2 linked regions of the Homo sapiens genome follow. The protein of the gene in region 1 purifies or fractionates together with the protein of each later gene. This does not show direct contact. Each region holds a gene or a part of one and is shown in the gene's direction. Other genes may lie near its edges.

What was found.
Region 2: the proteins of COQ8B (region 1) and CLPB purify together in Homo sapiens (affinity purification with mass spectrometry; 2 studies listed by BioGRID and IntAct, with this or other methods). This does not show direct contact.

What each region holds. Positions count from the first base shown.
Region 1 is NC_000019.10:40,712,075-40,723,360, reverse strand, and holds the start of COQ8B (atypical kinase COQ8B, mitochondrial), read left to right. Parts: upstream 1-6,474; 5' UTR 6,475-6,774; intron 6,775-8,241; exon of another isoform or gene 8,242-8,308; intron 8,309-8,725; 5' UTR 8,726-8,728; coding exon 8,729-8,830; intron 8,831-8,963; coding exon 8,964-9,083; intron 9,084-9,227; coding exon 9,228-9,294; intron 9,295-11,286. Other genes in the region: ITPKC (inositol-trisphosphate 3-kinase C), read right to left, coding at 5,071-6,225.
Region 2 is NC_000011.10:72,283,198-72,293,055, reverse strand, and holds the end of CLPB (mitochondrial disaggregase), read left to right. Parts: 3' UTR 1-7,561; downstream 7,562-9,858. UniProt on the Homo sapiens protein: Functions as a regulatory ATPase and participates in secretion/protein trafficking process. Has ATP-dependent protein disaggregase activity and is required to maintain the solubility of key mitochondrial proteins.

The sequences.
Region 1 (11,286 bases):
ACACTGGGAAACCAAGGTGGGAGGACCACTGAGCCCAGGAGATTGAGGCCAGCCTGGGCAATATAGCAAGACCCCATCTCTACAAAATGTTTAAAAATTAGGCCGGGCGCAGTGGCTCATGCCTGTAATCCCAGCACTTTGGGAGGCTGAGGCAGGCGGATCATGAGGTCAGGAGATTGAGACCATCCTGGCTAACACAGTGAAACCCCGTCTCTACTAAAAATACAAAAAATTAGCTGGGCATGGTGGCGGGCACCTGCAGTCCCAGCTACTCGGGAGGCTGAGGCAGGAGAATGGTGTGAACCTGAGAGGCAGAGGTTGCAGTGAGCCGAGATTGTGCCACTGCACTCCAGCCTGGGCGAGAAAGCGAGACTCCATCTCAAAAAATAAATAAATAAATAAATAAAAAATTAAGAATCAGCTAGGCGTGGTGGTGTGCACCTGTAGTCCCAGCTACTCAGGAGGCTAAGGTGGGAGGATCACTTGAGCCCTGGAGGGTGAGGCTGCAGTGAGCAGTGATTGTGCCACTGCACTCCAGACTGGGTGACCCAGTGAGACCCTGACTCAAAAAAATAAGAAAGAAAGAAAGAAAACCAGAGAAGCAAATAGAAAACAGGGTTTTCGTTGTATCATGCCGACTAAACTATGAGCTTTTTGAGACAGGGTTAGTGTCTGATTCATGAACACATACACACACAGGAATACATTCTGCACCCCACAAGCATGTCAAGTCCCTTAGCAAGTACTGGAAGAGTGGGTCACCTCCAGAGAAGGAAACTGTATGGCTCATCCCTCTCCTACCCCAGGATCAGGGACGTGTTCATCTCTCCCGCCCCCTCAGAGCCCAGCTACCTCACAGACATCTCTTTGACAGTGGGAAGGTTAAGAGGGAGTCAGGGTTCGGGAAGGGCTAGTCCCTCCCCAATCCAGCTGCCGGCCCTGGGGAAGAGATGATTAATAAAGGTTCCTGTTTACTAAGTACCTGGAACATTCCAGACACAATGACAAAGACTCAGTGTGCCACAACCTACTTAATTTCTAAAAACACAACCCCAGGGAGATTATCGTCTCGGTGTTACAAAGGAGGAAACAGAGGGTCTGAGAGGTGAAGCCACTTACCTAACATCACCCCACACAGCGCTGGGGTTCTAGCTCTGGTTGGATCCCAGTGCCTTGGGGCTTATCCCCTACACACTTGCTGGACTACAAGCTCATGATGGCAGAGACTGGGGTTGTCATGGTTATGATTATGTCCCCAGCACATGGCCTGGCACACGACAGACGCTCCAGAAACATTCTTTGATGCTTGGACTGAAGAATGTTAGTTGGGATTTTTTTAATAGTAATTTTTTTTTTTTTTGAGACAGGATCTCACTCTGTTGCCCAGGCTGGAGTGCAGAGGTGTGATCTTGGCTCACTGCAACCTCTGCCTCCCAGGCTCAAGCAATCCTCCTGCTTTAGCCTCCCGAATAGCTGGAAAACAGGCATATACCACCACATCTAGCTAGTTCTTTTTTCCTTTTAGTAGAGATGAGGTCTCACTGTGTTGCCCAGGGTGGTCTCAAATTTCTGGGCTCAGGCAATCCTCCCACCTCAGCCTCCCAAAGTGCTGGGATTATAGGCATAAGCCACCACACCTGGCCCCTTAATCATAAACATAATATCTTCTCTCTCTGTTTTATGTTAGATCCGGGCCGGGCACAGTGGCTCATGCTTGTAATCCCAGCACTTTGGGAGGCTGAGGTGGGTGGATCACCTGAGGTCAGGAGCTCAGAACCAGCCTGGCCAACATAGTGAAACCCACTCTCTACTAAAAAAAAAAATTAGCCGGGCGTGGTGGCGTGCGCTTGTAGTCCCAGCTACTTGGGAGGCCGAGGCAGGAGAATCACTTGAACCCGGGAGGCTGAGGTTGCAGTGAACTGAGATCTCGCCACTGCACTTCAGCCTAGGCAACAGAGTGAAACTCCGCACTGCACGCCCTCCAAAAAAAAAAAAAAAGTTAGATCCAATGGTTTATCTGGGCTTTCTCGGATTTTTTTCACAATGGTCTCAGCTTATATGCCCCTTCCTCCAGGAAGCCCTCTCTGATACCCTGTGTCTGGCCAGTGACCTCCTTCTGGGCTCACACATCCTCCTGACCACTCTGAACTGTGACTGTCGGCTGATTGGTCTGTCTCTTTCATGGGCCTGGGAGCTCCATGAGTGTCTTGGTCACTGCTGTTTCCCCAGCAAAGCTAACATAGGACCAAATACATGGTAGGGGCTTAGGGAGTGATTTTTGTCTCATTAGAAGAATAGGATAGCACACCTGTAATCCCAGCACTTTGGGAGGCTGAGGCAGGAGGATCACTTGAGCCCAGGAGTTCAAGACCAGCCTGGGCAAGATAGCAAGACCCCATCCCTACCAAAAAAAGAAAAAGAAAGAGAACACAATTTTAAAAAAAGGACAGGATGGTGAGAAGGAAGGAAGGAGGAAAGGGAGAAAGGAAGCTGAGCCTTTACGGTCAGAGAGGATTTCAAAATTAAGGGAGAAGGAAGCACGGGTATGCTGGGCAGTGGGAACGGCTTGAGCAATGCGTGGAGGCAGGACAACAGAAGAGTGTTCAAGGAACAGTGTGTACTCAGGCCTAGTTACAGCAGAGGGGGTCAGGAGGAGGGAAGGAAGTCGATTCTGGGAAGGCGCCTGGAGACCGGAGGCTCCAAACGCAGCACTGAGCCCCTGACTGCTCTCAGAGAGGGCACCTGAGCAGACAAAGCTGGGCCATGGAGGCAGATTCTGGAAGGATGAGAAAAAAACTGGAGATAGGGAGGCCTGGGAGGGAGACAAGTTAGGAACAGATCTACACACTGGAGGGTTTAAACGATGGGTTTGAAACTCAGCCAGAACTGAGTTAGAATCCTGGCTCTGACTTGACGTGGCCAACCCTAAGCAAAGAATCTCTCACCTCTCTATGCCTCAGCTTCCCCATCTGTTGTTTTTGTTTTTTTTTTTTTGAGACCGAGTCTTGCTCTGTCACCCAGGCTGGAGTGCAGTGGTGCAATCTCGGCTCACTGCAACCTCCGCCTCCCACATTCAAGCGATTCTCCTGCCTCAGCCTCCCAAGTAGCTGGGATTACAGGTGCCCGCCATCACACGCCTGGCTAATTTTTGTATTTTAGTAGAGACAGGGTTTCATCATGTTGGCCAGGCTGGTCTTGAACTCCTGACCTTAGGTGATCCCCCTGCCTCGGCCTCCCAAAGTGCTGGGATTACAGGCTTGGGCCACTGAGCCTGGCCCCCATCTGTTGAATGGAGACAATCTCAGTGCTGTCATAAGGACTCAGAGTTAACACATACAAAGCCCTTAATTAAGATAGATGCTATTTTAAGATAAAAAATGACAGAAAAAAATTGACAAAAAAGACTAAAAAAAAAAAAGAAGAAAAAACTTAAAACAGTGTCTGGTGTACAGTAAGGATTAGAATTATTTGATCTGCATCTTGCAAGGTGATATCCTTGGACAAGTGACTTGAATTCTCTGTGCCTCAGTTTCCTCATCTGTAAAAGGGGATAATAATAGTATCTACCTCAGCCGGGTGCAGTGGCTCATGCTGGTAATTCCAGCACTTCGGGAGGCTGAGGCGGGTGGATCACTTGAGGTCAGGAGTCTTGAGGTCAGCCTGGCCAACATGATGAAACCCTGTCTCTACTCAAAATACAGAAATGAGCCAGGTGTGGTGGCGGGCACCTGGTGTCTCACCTACTCAGGAGGCTGAGGCAGGACAATCACTTGAACCCAGGAAGTGAAGGCTGCAGTGAGCCGAGATGGCACCACTGCACTCCAGCCTGGGCAACAGAGCGAGACTGTCTCAGAAAAAAAAAAAAAGTATCTACCTCATTAGGGTTGCTGCGAGGAGTGAGTGAGTTAATAAAAGCACAGCACTTAGCACAGGGCTAAACATGAGTGAGTGCTAATTGTTGTTGTTATTATTATTATTATTATTATTATTATTCACCCACTTCCAGCTCAGCTGTTCTGAGATGCCAAGGAAGTGAGAGGGCAGGCAGAGAGAAAAAAGCAATGGGGCCCAGGAGGGTCAGCCCCTGCACACAGGCACAGGCACGTCAAGGCAGGTCTGTCTCTCACAGCTAGGGCCACATGTGTGAACACGTCCCCAAGGAAGGCATGTGGGGTGAAGCGGGGCTCAGGGCAGACTCCAGCCAGGGGCCCCAGAGCAAAAAGAGGCCTCAGCAGGCAAGCTGGCAAGCTGATGGACTCCGGACTCGGCTCCCAGCCCCACGGCTCCCAGCCCCACGTGAGGCTCTCCAGTTTCACACCGGCCTCTGCTCTGTCCCGCCCTCCCTGAACCTGCCCGGCCGGTCCTCCTGATTCACCAGGGGAGAGCCACACCCAAGCTGGGGGTGACGGTGGACAAAGTAAACAAGAGTGTTCAGGGGGCTCCTTGGGGATGTAGGGGTCACAGGGGAGACCAGGTGGGCTCCCGGCTAGGCCAAGGATCCTTTGGCGTTTGGGGTCACACAGCCCTTTTGCGAATCTGATGCAAGCTGGGGGAATCGCTTTGCTCCCTAGAAAAATGTACATACAAATAGGCTAAGGGGTGGTGAAGGTTTGTGACCCTTTAAGACAGCCACAGGCCCCAGATTAAGAAATGTGGGGTAGAAAGTGCACCCTGCCTGTCTCCCTATCCCAGTGTTCTTCAGATTCCAGAGGATTAGACAGATGTCAGACCGTCGCTGCAACAATGTATGTGAACACGCACGGCAGGCTCCTTAGTCCTACAATTTCAGGGGTTCCTGGGCCCCATAAAGTCGGTCAGTGGCCCTCCATTGTAGACCCCCAGGAGTGGAGACAGTGCAGGAAGGGGAAAGGAGAGAATTAAGAAGGGGTGCCTGGAGTGAATTAGTAACCTGGCTGTCAGAGGGAGGAGGTCAGTGGATGGAAGAGGTTCCCGGAGATGAAATTGCTGGTGGGCAACTAACAGTAAATGGGTAGAGAACTTCCTAAGCAAAGGCGGAGGAATAAGGAGTTTTGCGTGATGTGGCTCAAGGGCAGGATGGGTCCCACTCACCCCAGACCTGTCCTCGGGATCGCTGGCACCTCCGCCCCCGGCCACCACGTCATCCTCAGACTCGTCGAAAGAAGAGGCAGAGGAGAAGCCGCCGCTGCCCCCCTCAACCCGGGAGGGGGGTCCCACTGGCTGGGCCTCAGGCTCAGGGGTCTCAGGGGTAATGATGAGGCGGGGCACAGGGCACAGGGGGCTACACTTCAGGTGAGAGTACAGGTGAGTCAGCAATTCTCCAGGCTCTGGTTCCTCTAATGGGCCATCCTCAGGCTCTCCCAAGAGGCAGTCTGTCCCAGGTGCTGTCTGGGAACCGTCAGTGCTAGGTTGTGTCCAGGAGCCATCAGTATCCTGTTGTATTTGGAAACCACCAGTGCCAGGCTGTTTCCTGGCTGCTTCAGTATCCTGTTTTTTCTGGGAGCCATCAGTATATGGCTCTGTCCAGGGACCTTCAATATCCTGTTGTGTCCTGGAGCCATCAGTATACAATTCTTTCCAGGAGCCATCAGCACTTGGCTCTTTTGAGGGACAGGCTCCTTCTGGGTGAGTCTGGAGGCTGGAACTGTTCTGGTGGGTCCAGAGGTTATCAGCCCAGGACTTGACCCTCTCTGGCTGAGTCTGTGACCCATGCGTTTCCAGCTCTGTCCAGGGCCCATGAACCCCTGGCTGTGTCCAGGGGCTGGCCTCCTCGGGCTGAAACTGGAGGTCGGACCTGTGCGGATCAGTCCAAAGGCCATCTGTCCCGGTCTCCGTCCAAAGACAAGTCGTCTCCAGCTCTGACCAGCTCCATTCTAGATGCGTCCGGAGGCTGGACCTGTCTGGCTCCGTCTTTTGCTTGGGCCTCTCGGTCTCTACTCCAAGGCCAGCTGCCGCGGGCTCAGTCTGTCCGTCTGTCCAGAATTCTGCCTGCGGACTCTCTGTCCCCGGCGCAGGCCCGAGGCCGGCCCTCTCAGGCTCGCTGTGGAGGCTGGACCCCTCTGTCCGGGCCCAGGGCCCGCCCCCCTCCGGCCGCCCCGCCGGGGCCCCTGCGCCGGGCCCAGGTCGCTGCTGTCCCGGCTGCCGCCGCCGCCCTCCTCGCGGCGCCTCCAGTCCCATGCGGGCCGCCGCGGGCAGCGCCCCGGCCTCCGCCTCGTTCAGGCTCCCACGGCACGGGCAGCGCCTCATGCCCGCTCCTTCGGTTCGGGCTTCGGCCGACCCGGCCCCTCCTATCCCTTTAAATCCCGCGAGGGGTGTGGCTGGGGAGCCCCGACTCCCGGGTTCCGGCCCGCGGAGCTCCAGCCCGCCCCGCCGCGCAAGGGTTAACCGATACTCCCCTCAAAGGGGAAAGCCCCGAAGCCCCGCCCCACCGGACGTGACGGAACGGAACGAGACGGAGCCTTGTCCGACTCCGCCTCCCAAGGGGAGGGGGTTTGCCTCTGAGCATCCGAAGCGCGGCCAGGTATGCATCTAGGGCACCGGGGTCCTGGTGGCGCGCCAGTGGGCCCCCTCCCTCCACCCCTGTGACTAAACCACCCTCCCTACACGGTTGAATGACAAGTTCAACCTTCCCTAAAACCCCCGGTGACGAGTCCAGCCGCGCGCCCATTCTTCACGCAGGGGCGGGACGGACTTTCAAAGACTTGGAGTTCCCACGGGTGTGGGTTCGAGACCTTCCTCTGCCAGTTCCCAGCTCCGCTACCCTGAGCAAATGACTTACGCTCCATTGGATTTTCCGTAAGAAATCTCTGTCATGTATAGAGTACTTGTTCTGTATCAGACCCTGACACGATTTCAGTTCATTCTCCAAGGCTGAACAATAGGGATGCCAGGGCTCCATTTTACACGTGAGAACAGAGGCTCAGAGATCTGCCGGCCTCTACCCTTTGCTTGCAGCTACGGGGCTATCTGACATGATCTCATGTATGTGAAGCATGTGGCCCCGGGCCTGGCACTGTCAGTTGTAGCCCAGTAGGATTATTTATTGTCCTAGGTGATTTTGATATATTTTGCCCCCAAGGCTGAGCTGCCACCCAGCTCCTGAGTCAGCCGTTCACCTCTGAAGGGGGAGAGGAGGTGGTTTGTCTTGAAATTGAGTCAACTGGGGGAGACATTGGGCACAGGTCCAAGGCTCTAAAATGAGTCACCTTTTCACAGACCAATGAGAGAAATCGAAGGCAGGAGCCCACCTAGTACCTCATACAGGTTGGGAAGGAGAAGTCCAGAGAGGGATGAGGGCTTTTCTGAGGTCACACAGTACGGGAATAGAGACAAAGAGGCCTGATTCCCGACAAGAGGGGTTGGGGCAGCGGGGTTCTGTGGGGGAAGCATCGGCATCCCTCCCTCTCCCAGTGGTGGGAAAGATGCCCCAACCAGATGCCTCTATTCCAGACTGTGAGAAGTGGGTGAGTCAGCCTGTTGTGGGGAGAGCAGGCTTTCCAACGCGCGCGCGCACACACACACACACACACACACACAGAGAAAGAAAGATAGGATGGGAGGTGGTTTTCTGGGATGCCAAGGTTCCTGACTCAGCACTGGGAATCTTGGCTGAGTGTGTTCTGGGAAATGTCAGGCCTACAGGAAGCAGAGGGCTCCCAGTCGCACCATTCCGCAGGTGGGCGGGGAGCGGAGAGAACAGGGTGTGTGAGGGAACAGAGACTCAGTGTGCAAGTGGGGGGGAGGGTATGTACACGAGAGAGTTGAAGGCGTGAGCGGGAAACAGTTGGCAAGCAAGGCAAGGGATTTATATGCACAAGGAAGGAGGTTGGGTGCCAGAATGTGGGTGTTTGTGCAAAGTGGAGGGGCTCCATGTGCAAGGGAAATGTTTGCTGGGAAGAATGTGTATTCAAAGGAATTGTGTTGAGCCTGCCAGGGGTAAAAATAAGAAGGGGGGTTGGCAAGATATTCGTGCAGAAGAGAGGCGTCAGGTTTGTAAGGGAGACTTTGCAAGAAAGTGTAGGGAACAGAAGGGTCTGTCGCGTACAAGGCACTTTGAGGTGAGTGGAAGGGCAGACAGGGCACGCTTGCGCTCCCGCGATGCCTCAGCAATCCCCCCAGATGGGCCCCCGATGCCCACCTTAATTCCAGGCTCCATCGCTAGGGCCTCTCTCTGGCCCCTTCCCCCGCGCACAGATGGAGAAACTCCGTGCCAGTCAGCGAGTTGCTGCCGCGCCATTGGTTGGCTGGCCGAAGGGGGCGGGCATACAGAGGCTCCCGGAAGCACAGGAGGGCCCCAGCAGGTTGCGGACTCGGAGGCTGAGAGCAGTGGGTGCTTAGCAACGGGGGGAGGTGCTCAGTAACGGGGTGGGGATCGGGCGGGGGGACACCGGAGGAATTGCGGGTGCCTACAGGGCCAACAGAGGGGAAGGCGGTGCATAGCAACGAGGGGGGTTTCAGAGAAGTGGAGAGGTAGCCCCTGAGGAACTGTGGGTGTCTAGTAACGGGGGCGGACCCTAGCAACGGCGAGGGTTGGGAGAGGGGGGAAAGTGGGTTTTGGGAGGCCTGCAGGAAGAGCTAAGGGTTCCTAGCAACCAGGGGAGAACCAGGAGAAACTGTGGGAATCTATTAATAGTGGAGGAAGTATTTAGTGGGTGGGAATGAGAGAGGGTGGACACAGAGGAACATGGGGGCCTGGCCAAGAAGCCAGGCAACTCCCACCTGAATAATCCCTCCTCTTCTCCTCCAGGCAATGTGGCTGAAGGTGGGGGGCCTACTTCGGGGGACCGGTGGACAGCTGGGCCAGACTGTTGGTTGGCCTTGTGGGGCCCTGGGGCCTGGGCCCCACCGCTGGGTAAGAGGCTAGGGAGCAGGTCCCCAAGGGGAAGAGGCTGAGGGAGACTTCAGAGGGTAAAAGGACAGGAGGGGTCCAGAAGGGCCAGGTGATCCCATGTCCTCCCCTCCTTATCAAAGTATATCTCTTGCAGGGACCATGTGGAGGTTCTTGGGCCCAAAAGTTTTACCAGGATGGGCCTGGGAGAGGCCTGGGTGAGGAGGACATTCGCAGGGCACGGGAGGCCCGTCCCAGGAAGACACCCCGGCCCCAGGTATCATTACCCCCACCCACCCAGCAACACCCCACGAATACTGCTGGCCCCCTGAGCTTGGGGAAGGGTGTGGTGGCAGAGTGGCTGCACTCTCTGGCCACGATGCCCACTTTCCCACCCTCAGACCTTGTCCCCATTTCCCAGCTGAGTGACCGCTCTCGAGAACGCAAGGTGCCTGCCTCCCGCATCAGCCGCTTGGCCAACTTTGGGGGTAGGTGTGACTTTGGGGGATCTTGGTGTGACCTCAATTAGAAAGGGCAACATTTACAGATTGAAGCAAGGGAGAGGATGAATCAGAGACAGGAAAGAGAGAGAGACAAAAAAAGAGAGACAAAGGCAAGGGCCTGCAAGGCCAAGAGAAATCAAGAGGAACATAAATGATAATTTTTTTTTTTTTTTTTGAGACAGAGTCTCACTTTGTCACCCAGGCTGGAGTGCAGTGGCGCGATCACTGCAGCCTCAAACTTCTGGGCTCAAGCAATTCTCTCGCCTCAGCCTCCTGAGTAGCTGGGACCACAGTTGTGCACCATCCGCCCGGGTAATTTTTTTTTTTTTTTCCTTTGAGACAGAGTCTCGCTCTGTTGCCCAGGCTGGAGTGCAGTGGCACCGTCTTGGCTCATTGCAACCTCTGCCTCCTACATTCAAGCAATTCTCCTGCCACAGCCTCCTGAGTAGCTGGGATTACAGGTGCCTGCCACTATGCCTGGCTATTTTTTTTTTTTTTTTTTTGAGACGGAGTATCCCTCTGTCACCCAGGCTGGAGTGCAGTGGCGCCATCTTGGCTCACTGCAACCTCCACCTCCCGGGTTCAAGCCGATTCTCCTGCCTCACACTCCCAAGTAGCTGGGATTACAGGCATGCATCCACCACACCCGGCTAATTTTTGTATTTTTAGTAGAGACGGGGTTTCACCATGTTTGTCAGGCAGTGGTAGAGCTTTGGCACCAGGCTGCCCAGGGTTCAAGGGATGACTCTGCTATGTCCTCGCTTTGTGATCCGCCTGCCTCAGCCTTCCCAAGTGCTGGGATTACAGGCGTGAGCCACCACACCTGGCCGCCTGGCTAATTTTTGTACTTTTAGTAGAGACAGAATTTCACCATGTTGGCCAGGCTGGTCTTGAACTCCTGACCTCAAGTGATCCACCCACTTCGGCCTCCCAAAGTGTTGGGATTTACAGATGTGAGCCACGGTGCCCGGGAAGCCACTGTGCCTGGCCTGGGTAATTTAAAAAATATTTTTTTGTAGAGATAGGGTCTCCCTATGTTGCTCAAGTTGGTCTCAAGCGATCCTCCTGCCTCGGCCTCCCGAAGTGCTGGGGTTCTAGGCATGAGCCACTGCTCCTGGCCATAATAACATTTACTGAGAACCTGTAATGTGCAGTGTCCCATATACACACATGCTGCACTGAATCAATGAGTGTTCTATTCCGTACATGAGGACATTGAGGCTAACAAAGGGGAGGTCACTTGACTTTGGGTTACACAGCCGGATGTCGTGCAAGTCACATGAAATAATTTAGTGGGTTGCAACCAGCATTTAAAAAGAAGAATAGGACAGAAAATATGCATGCACCTGTAGAGCAAGGGAAAGTCTTGTTTCGTGAAACATATACCTTGGTCTGCACTGGTTATAACGTAAATGTCTTCTTATTGCTGATCATGGTTCAAGTTTTGTTTTTGTTTTTGTTTTTGAGATGGAGTCTTGCTCTGTCACCCAGACTGGAGTGCAGTGGCATGATCTCAGCTCACTGCAACCTCCACCTCCCAGGTTCAAGCAATTCTCCTGCCTCAGCCTCCTGAGTAGCGGGGGTTACAGATGCACGCCACCACGTCCAACTATTTTTTGTTGTTTTTTTTTTTTTTTTTCTTAGGGAGACAGGGTTTCACCATGTTGGCCAGGATGGTCTCGATCTCCTGACCTCATGATCCGCCTGCCTTGGCCTCCTAAAGTGCCAGGATTACAGACGTGAGCCACTGTGCCTGACCGCTAATTTCTGTATTTTTAGTAGAGATGGGGTTTCACCATGTTGGTCAAGCTGATCTCGAACTCCTCACCTCGTGATCCACCTGCCTCAGCCTCCCAAAGTGCTGGGATTATAGGCGTGAGCTACCATGCCCCGCCTGGTTCAAGTTTTAAAAATATAGATTCACTTGCTTGTACCCAGGAGGTAGAGATTGCAGTGAACCAAGATCGCACCATTGCA
Region 2 (9,858 bases), on another chromosome or scaffold:
CCATAGTCGCCAGACTTTCTCATGTTCCCAGGAAGCTCAGAAGTATGGCAGCTAAGAACACAGCTGGCTGGAAGAAGACAGGGACCAGACTGAACTGCCACCCTCTGCTAGTCCTCATGCAACTCAGTCCCCAGAATGGCTCCACTGGGAGTGGAGGAAGAGCTCAGAGGCCCAGGTGCAGATAGTTCTGCAATTTAGTCTGTAGCCTCCTCGTTCCCTACCCTAAAATTCTAAGGGGAAGGGACCCATAGAGGCTTGCCTGTTTCCGCTACTATATTATGCCCAGTGTTCCTCCTCACCCCACGTCCTGGGGTCAGGCCAGACCATGTTTCGTCAGCCTTGGGGACTAGGCCAGTGTTGGGCACCTCCAGGAGGAGGCCTGACTGGTTCATTACCCTCCCCTACTCAGACTGAGCAGCAGTCCCAGATAACCAAGCAAGCTCAGCTCTGTGGGGGCCTCCTTCAAAAGACCAACATCGCAGACATTAGGAAGCTGTAGGAAGAGAGATCATGGGTTTGACCTCTGCCCACATGGCCATGGAGTCAGCCTCAGCCCTGTCTGTACTGCTCGTCCAGCTAAACGAGCCTGGAATAAACATGCAGTTTATTCAGTCTGCATGTTAGTCACAAAGCAGAGGGTCTGGACACCGTCCCCCAAGGGCATTTCACAGACCAGCCAATGTTTCAAGCCCACCTTAGCCAGGCACAGTAAGGCCTGGTGCATCCTTGGGCACCATCTACAGTAGCCACTGCTGATAAGCAGTCCACCCACCTTCCCCCACAGGCCCTTCATGGAACCCTCGCGTAGTGTTAGCTAGTCTTTCAGGAAGCAGAGAATGGGGCCAGGAATCAAAGTCCCTTGGGTAATGGAAGCATGTCCTAACAGTATGGTGGGTATGAGGCAGTCAGAATCCAGGGTGTGAGCTCCAGCAGATGCTTGGATCACTGTCTACCCCTCAGGGGCTGCTGCTCCCTACCTCACTGACTGCCTTTTTTTTTTTTTTTTTTTTTTTGAGACAGAGTCTCACTCTGTCCCCCAAGCTGGAGTGCAGTGGCGCGATCTCGGCTCACTGCAAGCCCTGCCTCCCAGGTTCACGCCATTCTCCTGCCTCAGCCTCCCGAGTAGCTGGGACTACAGGTGCCCACCACCACGCCCGGCTACCTTTTTGTATTTTTAGTAGAGACAGGGTTTCACCATGTTAGCCAGGATGGTCTCAATCTCCTGACCTTGTGATCTGCCTGCCTCGGCCTCCCAAAGTGCTGGGATTACAGGCATGAGCCACTGGACCCGGCCTGCTTTTCATTGTTTTTTACTTTTTGTTTTGAAATAATTTTAGACTTAGAGAAAGTTGCAGAAATAGTAGAAAATTCCCATGTATCTTTCATCTAGCATCTCCCAATGATTACATCCTACAAAGCCATACTGTAGTTTATCAAAACCAGGAAATTGCCGGGTGTGGTGGCTCATGCCTGTAATTCCAGCACTTTGGGAGGCTGAGGCAGGCAGATTACCTGAGGTCAGGAGTTCGAGACCAGCCTGGCCAACATGGTGAAACCCTGTCTGTACTAAAAATACAAAAATTAGCCAGGCCCGCTGGTGCCCACCTGTAATCCCAGCTACTTGGGAGGCTGAGGCAGGAGAATCACTTGAGCCCAGGAGGCGGAGGTTGCAGTGAGCTGAAATCACGCCACTGCACTCCAGCCTGGGCGACAGAGTGAGACTCCGTCTCAAAAAAAGAAAACCAGGAAGTTAACATTGATAAACTACTACTAACTAATCTACGGACATTCAAATTTTGCCAGTTTTCCCGATGATGTCCTTTGTCTGGTCCAGGGTCCCATATTGCATTTTGTTGTGGTGTTTCCTTCATCTCTGTCAGCCTGTGACAGTTTCTTGGTCTTTATCTTTCATGACCTTGACACTTTGGAAGAGTCCAGGCCAGTTATTTTATAGAATATTCCCCAGTTTTAGTTTGTTTAATGTTTTTACATGATATGATTGAGGATCTGCATTTTTGCCAAGACAACCACAGAAGTGATACTGTGCTATTCTTAGTGCCTCCTAGCGGAGGGTGGTGGTAACTTTTTGTTTTGGTTTTTTTTTTTTTTTTGAGACGGAGTCCCGCTCTGTCACCCAGGATGGAGTGCAGTGGCGCAATCTCGGCTCACTGCAACCTCTGCCTCCTGGGTTCAAAGTGATTCTCCTGCCTCAGCCTCCTGAGTAGCTGGGATTGCAGGTGCCCACCACCACACCCAGCTAATTTTTGTATTTTTAGTAGAGACAGGTTTTCGCCATGTTGGCCAGGCTGGTCTTGAACTCCTGACCTCAGGTGATCCACCCACCTCGGCCTCCCAAAGTGCTGAGATTACAGGCATGAGCCACCACACCTAGACTAGGTGGTGGTAACTTTGATCACATGGCTAAGGTGGTGTGTGCCAGGTTTCTCCACTGTAAAATTAGGAATTTTCCCTTTGAAATTAACAAGAATCTTCCACTTTGAAGCTATGTGAATGTCTTATTCTTAAAATTTTGCCTACTGATTTTCATTTCCATCATCAATGATTCTTGCTTATAACAGGTATTAATGTTATGCTTGCCTAATGGTGACTTTGTTTCATTATTTTACCTGTATTTATTAATTGGTATTCTACTATAAGGAAGAGCTGTCCCTTTTCCCCATTTATTTATTTGATAATTTATATCAGTATGAATGAGTGGATATCTGTTTTATTCTACAGGCTACAATCTAATGCTAACAGTTTATTTGGTTGCTCAAATTGGCTCAGATTTGGCCAGTGAGAACTCATTGAAGTTGGCACTGTGTTGTTTCGACATTGCCCCTGTCACTTTTTAAGCATTTTCTGGCACCACAAGATGTTTCAGGCTTCCTCACATTTTCCCTATCTCAGCCCTGGCATCAGTCATTCTCTAAGAAGCTCCCAGTTCCTTTTATTCCAGAAAAAAGGAACTTAGAAACCAAGTTGTTTCTTGATGCCACTGGAAACCAAGATCTGGACAGAATATATACTCCTGGCTAGAGTATCATTGGCGGAGTGTCATTGCTTGTAGGCCTGCTCAGCAGACAGAGCTAGAAAACATATATGTATATATGTTAAAACATGCAAATACAAGCACCTGAATTTATTATTCTATCCATCTGTATGTTATTAAAAACCGTGAGCCAGGTATGGTGGCTCGTGCCTGTATCCCAGGACTTTGGGAGGCCAAAGTGGGAGGATCACTTGAGCCCAGGAGTTCAAGACCAGCCTGCGCATCATAGCAAGACCTCATCCTCCAAACGTTTAAAAAATAAAAAATTAGCCAGGCATGGTGGTGCATTCCTGTAATCCTAGCTACGTAGGAGGCTGAGGCAGGAGGATCGCTTGAGTTCAGAAGGTTGAGGCTGTAGTGAACTGTGATTGTACCACTGCACTGCAGCCTGAGTGACAGAGCAAGACTCCGTTTCATATTTTTAAAAATAAATAAAAATCATGAGTTTAGATACGGTTTTAATTCAATACCATAGGGTTTGCGACTGCCATTTTTATAACCTTACTATTCTTTTTCTGCTTTTTCTCCTGCTATCTCTGTTTCTGCTCCTTTCTATTTGATGTTTAGACTTCCCATAGAGGCTCTAGTTAAGTCAGCTAGTAACCAGCCTGTGTGCAGTATTCCTACTAGATAGAGGTCTTATGCCCGGCTGTCAGTCCGTTGGTTCAGTTAACTGTGGCCAGGAATACTAGGCATATAACTTAAAATCAGATAACTTTTATACAAGAAAAGCCAATGGCCACCTTCCTGAGAATAGGATAAGGAGACAGGGGTAGAACCTTAGATTCTAAGGAACCTAATTAAGAATCACTTCTGGCCGGGCGTGGTGGCTCATGCCTGTAATCCCAACACTCTGGAGGCCATGTAGGGGCAGATCACGAGATCAAGAGATTGAGACCATCCTGACCAACATGGTGAAACCCCATCTCTACTAAAAATACAAAAATTAGCCAGGCGTGGTGGCGGGCGCCTGTAGTCTCAGCTACTCGGGAGGCTGAGGCAGGAGAATCGCTTGAACCCGGGAGGTGGAGGTTGCAGTGAGCCGAAATTGTGCCACTGCACTCCAGCCTGGTGACAGAGCCAGCCTCCGTCTCCAACAAAAACAAACAAAAAAAGAATTACTTCTTCCAGAGATTCTCTGCCAGAACTCCTAGGTGGTGTTGGACCCATATCTTTTACTTCCATAGCATCCCAGGCTCAGCTCACTTGTCCTACTTGTTCTGTGTCTTCATCACTAGAATGTAAGTTCTAAGAGGGCAGATGCCAAGCTGTTCAGCCATTCACAGAACCTGGCACAGTGCAGGCATATGACAGATGTTCCTTTATTATTATACTTGGGTGAGTGGATGGGACCTGCAGCAAGTGCAGATCTTCTCAGTGGGCTCTGGAACAGAAAAGTATTGTTTGTTTGCTCAGCATATTTTTATTTGTCCCATGTTGCTGTGGCCAGGATTTGAGCTCTGAGACAATGCAGCAAGGTGAGACCCAGATTTCTTTTGTTTTGTTTTGTTTTTTGAGACAGAGTCTTGCTCTGTCGCCCAGGCTGGAGTGCGGTGGTGCAATCTTGGCTCACTGCAACCTCCACCTCCAGTTCAAGCAGGTCTCATGCCTCAGCCTCCTCAGTAGCTGGGACTACAGGCATATGCCACCATACCCAGCTAATTTTTTTTGTATTTTTAGTAAAGACGGGGTTTCACCATGTTTGCCAGGCTAGTCTCAAACTCCTGGTCTCAAGTGATCCACCCACCTTGGCCTCCCAGAGTGCTGAGATTACAAGCGTCAACGACTGTACCCGGCCCCAAATTCCTTATTGAGGATCCTAGAATACATGAGACCAGACTTGGAAATGAAAGTGTAACATGTTTATTGTTCAAAAAGAAAAACTCAAAGGTGTGTAGTGATTTTAAAATTTAGGGAAATTCCTCAATATAGTGAAAGAAGAAAAACAAGAAAGAAATTTAGGAAAGAAACACACTTAAACCATAAAAAATAGAAAATGGACCAATAAAGATAAAAGCTAAACTTAACAAGGTAGGAAAAAGAAAAAGAATAAATTAAAAAATTCTTTGAAAGCACCAATAAAATAGATAAAACCTCCTGAGCCTGATAAAAGGGGAAAGGAGCCAAAAAAATTAACAAAATTAGGCATGAGAAATTAGACATAACCATATATATTGAGGAATTGAGAAGAAGAATAGAACTCTATGGCAACAAATTTGAAATCAGAGGAAATGGATAATTTCCCAGCAAACACTGATCCTAGAAATAGTTTGAATAGGCCAGTTGGTTACCCAAGAAGAAACTGGAAAGGTGGTTAAAATTTTATCCTTTTTGAGCACCATAAGATGGTGAAAAATAAATAAAATTTTATCCTTGTAAAAGATTGATGGCCAGGCATGGTGGTGGCCCACACCTGTAATCCTAGCACTTTGGAAGGCCAAGGCAGGCAGATCACTTGAGCCCCGGAGTCTGAGACCAGCCTGGGCAACATGGCAAGACCCCACCTCTACTAAAAATACCAAAATTAGCCAGGCATGATGGTGCTTGCCTGTAGTCAACAGCTACTTGGGAGGCTGAGGTGGGGAAGATGGTTTAAGCCCAGGAGGCAGAGGTTGCAGTGAGCCAAGACTGTGCTGCTGCACTCCAGCCTGGGTGACAGAGCGAGACCATGTCCCAAAAATAAAAAATTGTTTTTAATTAAACTTTTTAATTGAAAAATATATGGGAAATTGTACAAATCACAAGTATGCAGCTCAGTGAATGATTACAAAGTAAACACACTCCTATAGCCATCACTCAACCCCCAAAATAGATGAGTTTTAACTATTATTGTACTCAAACCTGATAAAGTGCCAGAAAGAATGCTATAGCCTAATCTCACCTATGGCCATAGATGCAAAAATCCCAAATAAAATCAAGTTGAATTGCACACTCTGATTACATAAGGTTTATTTTAGCAATGCAAGGCTCAGTGTCAGGAAATTTATTAATTTATTACATCAAGAACTTAAATGTTATTTAAATGTCTAGAGAGTGCTAGTGTTGTTAAATTTTCTCATTTTGATAATTATACTATGATTACAGAAGAGAACGTCCTTGTTTTCAGAAAATGTAAGTATTTAGAGGTTAAAGGTAAACCTCTAATTTGGTTTGCCAGTATTTCAGATAACTACACACACACACACACACACACACACACACACGGAATGATAAAGCAAAAAGTAAGGTGTTGGCAAGGCATGGTGGCTCACACCTGTAATTCCAACACTTTGGGAGGCCCAGGCAGGTGGATCACCTAGGTCTGGAGTTCGAGACCAGCCTGGACAACATGGTGAAACCCCTCTTTATTAAAGTACAAAAATTAGCCGGACATAGTGGCACATGCCGGTAATTCCAGCTATTTGGGAGGCTGAGGCACAGGAATCCCTTGAACCTGGAGGCAGAGGTTGTAGTGAGCCTACATCACACCACTGCACTCCAGCCTGGATGACAGAGTGAGACTGTCTCAAAAACAAACAAAAAAAAGATGTTAACATTTGGGAAATCTGAGGGAATGATGTACATGAATTCTTTGTATTGTTTTTGCAACTTTTAAGTATAAAGTTATTTCAGGCCAGGCATGGTAGTGCATGCCTGTATACCCAGCTACTCGAGGCTGAGGTGGAAGATTCCTTGAGTCTAGGAGTATGAGGTTACAGTGAGCTATGATCATGCCACTGCACTCCAGGCTGGGTGGCAGAGTGACACCCTATCTCTTAAAAAAAAAAAAAAAAAAAAAAACAGGTGCAGTATCTCACACCTGTAATCTCAACAGAACACTGAGGGGTCAAGGCAGGTGGACTGCTTGAGCCCAGGAGTTCAAGACCAGCCTGAGCAACATGGTGAAACCCCATCTCTGCAAAAAATTAGCTGGTTGTGGTGGCATCCACCTGTGGTCTCAGCTACTTGGGAGGCTGAGGTGGGAATATAACTGGAGCTCAGGAGGTGGAGGTTGCTGTGAGATGAGATCGTGCCACTGCACTCCAGCCTATCTCCAAAAAAAAAAAAAAGGCTATAGTAGAAGCCTATTAGCATGGATAAGTGTCTGAATAAAAGATAACTGTACAAAAATCAATTGTTTTTTCTGTATTCTAGCAATAATCAACTAGAAACAGTATCAAAAGAAAAACATTCCATTTACAATTGCAACAAATAGGTATATATATATTTGCTCTTCTACACATAACCTATTTCTGGAAGGGAGCAGAACTGGGCAATTCAGGGACAGCAATGGAAGGGGAACACTGCTATGTTATTTTAAATACTTTTTAGTAAGCTTTGAACCATATTAATGTATTACCTGTTCAAAATTATACTTAATAAATTTAACAAGAAAACCATATTGAAGGGCATAAAAATAAGACCTGACAAGTGAAAAAACATCAAGTTTTAGAAAGGATGATTTAATACTAAAATATACATTTCTTAATATATAACTTAATGTAAACCTAATAAATAATTTAATACAAATCTAATTGACAGCACTTTTAATTAAATAATGTTAAGGTCATACTGCACTACTATGTCCAGAGGCGATGCTACATGGAGCTACTGTTTTCTGGGTCTAGCCTCTCAGGAAATAGTCATTACTACTTTTGCAATCCCATCTTGACAGTATGCAAAAATTAGGGAAAATGTAAATTTATTATTAACACACACCCTAAATACAATTATGAGAGAAAGGAAAGAGAAGGGTTACTGTCTGTGGCTGGAGTATAGTAGCTGTGTATGAGTGTGGAGAAGAGAGGAAATTGGTGGAAAATGAAGCTAGAGAGGCAAGTTTCCTGATTTCAAAGTGCCCTGAATGCCATGCTAAGGGAATGAAATGACCAGATTTGTGTTTTAAAAGACCCTTTGTTTGCATTGTGTAGAATGATTTGGGATGACTTCTGACCAATATACAACAGAGAGTAATTTCAGGCAAACTCTCTTCCACCTCAAACAGAAATATTTAATATATGTAATAAGACAAGAAAGTTTAATACACAACTAGACTTGAAACCAAGAATGGGAAATCCCAGCCATGTACAGTGGCTCATGCCTGTAATCCCAGCACTTTGGGAGGCCAAGGCAGGCAGATCACCTGAGGTCAGGAGTTCAAGTCAGCCTGGCCAACATGGTGAAACCTTATCTCTACTAAAAATACAAAAATTAGCTGGGTGTGGTGGCATGTGCCTATAATCCCACCTACTGGGGAGACTGAGGCAGGAGAATTGCTTGAACCAGGAGGCAGAGGTTGCAGTGAGCTGAGATCACACCACTGCACTCCAGCCTGGGTGACAGAACGAGACTCCGCCTCAAAAAAAAAAAAAAAAATCTTAAAATGTTCAGACATGGAGAGAAGACTAAAAAACATAAAGCAAGAAAGGGCAGTAAGAAAAAATAGTAGGTATATTTGAAAAAGAGGCTTCATTCTGAGTGATTTTCTCAGATTAATTTTCGTCTTTTATGCATTTCTACAATTTTTTCTAGTGTTGTGGTCCTAATTGACTTAGATATTAGATACTAGGAGTAATAAGGACTCATATTCTTAAAGGAGGAAGATTTGGGTCATCCACTGGACAACAAACCATAGTGGTCTAAGGCAGTGACACAGGACAAGGGGAATATGGAATGGTCAGGGAGGGCAGTCACCAGTGTGACCCTCCAGAGTCATGATCAGTTGCAGAGATAAGGAATATAGCCTCAACCACAATCCTGAAACCATTAGCCCACCATCCTCTTAAGAGTCTTCAAGTCTAATACCATCCCTCACAGATTCGTTATAGTAATCCCAAGAAGTCTGACCCTAACCTCAGTGGTCATCTACCACCACATCATCACATACTGCTTCCCTCTCCAGCCTTTCCACTGTGTCCTCCAGCACTTCCTTTCTAAAATCGGTAGATTCTTTTCTATATGCACCTTGTATTTGGAATATTTGCTTCACTTCTTCATCTTAACTGTCCCCTAAAGACACAGCTTACTCTGGCTGTCCCCTAAGACTGCTTACCTGTAGCCCTCTTAGGCAGAGGCTGCTTTCATTGTTAGACCCAGAAGTGAGCCTCCACTGCTCCTCCTCAATTAGTTCTCATCCTTCCTCTCAGCTCTTTTGAATTCATCAGTTCGACTATACCAGCCTTTCTCTAATTGTCCTGCCTACTGATCTCCCAATCACTGTGTCACAGGGAAGATTTTAGTACCTGTGTCACTTTCTCTCTTCCCCAGCACATGCCATCATTCTTGGTGGCTTCAACCTTCCATGAATGACCTAAAGCCCTGCTCTCCTCACATTTAGTGGTCTTTTTTCTGCCCCTGCCCACCTAAATCACCTATGTTATGGTCACAGTCTAAATTTCATCACAAGTAATTAAACTTCCTCCGAAGCCCCTATCCCTCTCTAGCCAATTATCTTTCATCTTCCAGTTCACTTATATGAACTGGAGTACATTCTGTGTGTAATTCTGTGACCTTATTGATACTTCTAGTCCATTAACCCCAACCTTCTTATTGCCCATCTGATCCCTCTTTCTCCAAGTCCACTTAAATCTCAGGGCCCATCATTATAATCTCTCTCTTCCAAATATTCTCAGAATCTTCAGACTTAACCCAACAACAATATAGATCTTCCCAAACCTGTATTTTCAAAAAAAACTTCACGCTACGTAATGCCACCTATCCCTTGCACAGAGCAATTTACTCTTACAAAGATAAACATAGCAAAGTCTCATCAGTTGCTACAACTTGTTCCATATCAAGGATCTCTGTGTGATGAGCATTCTTCCTCT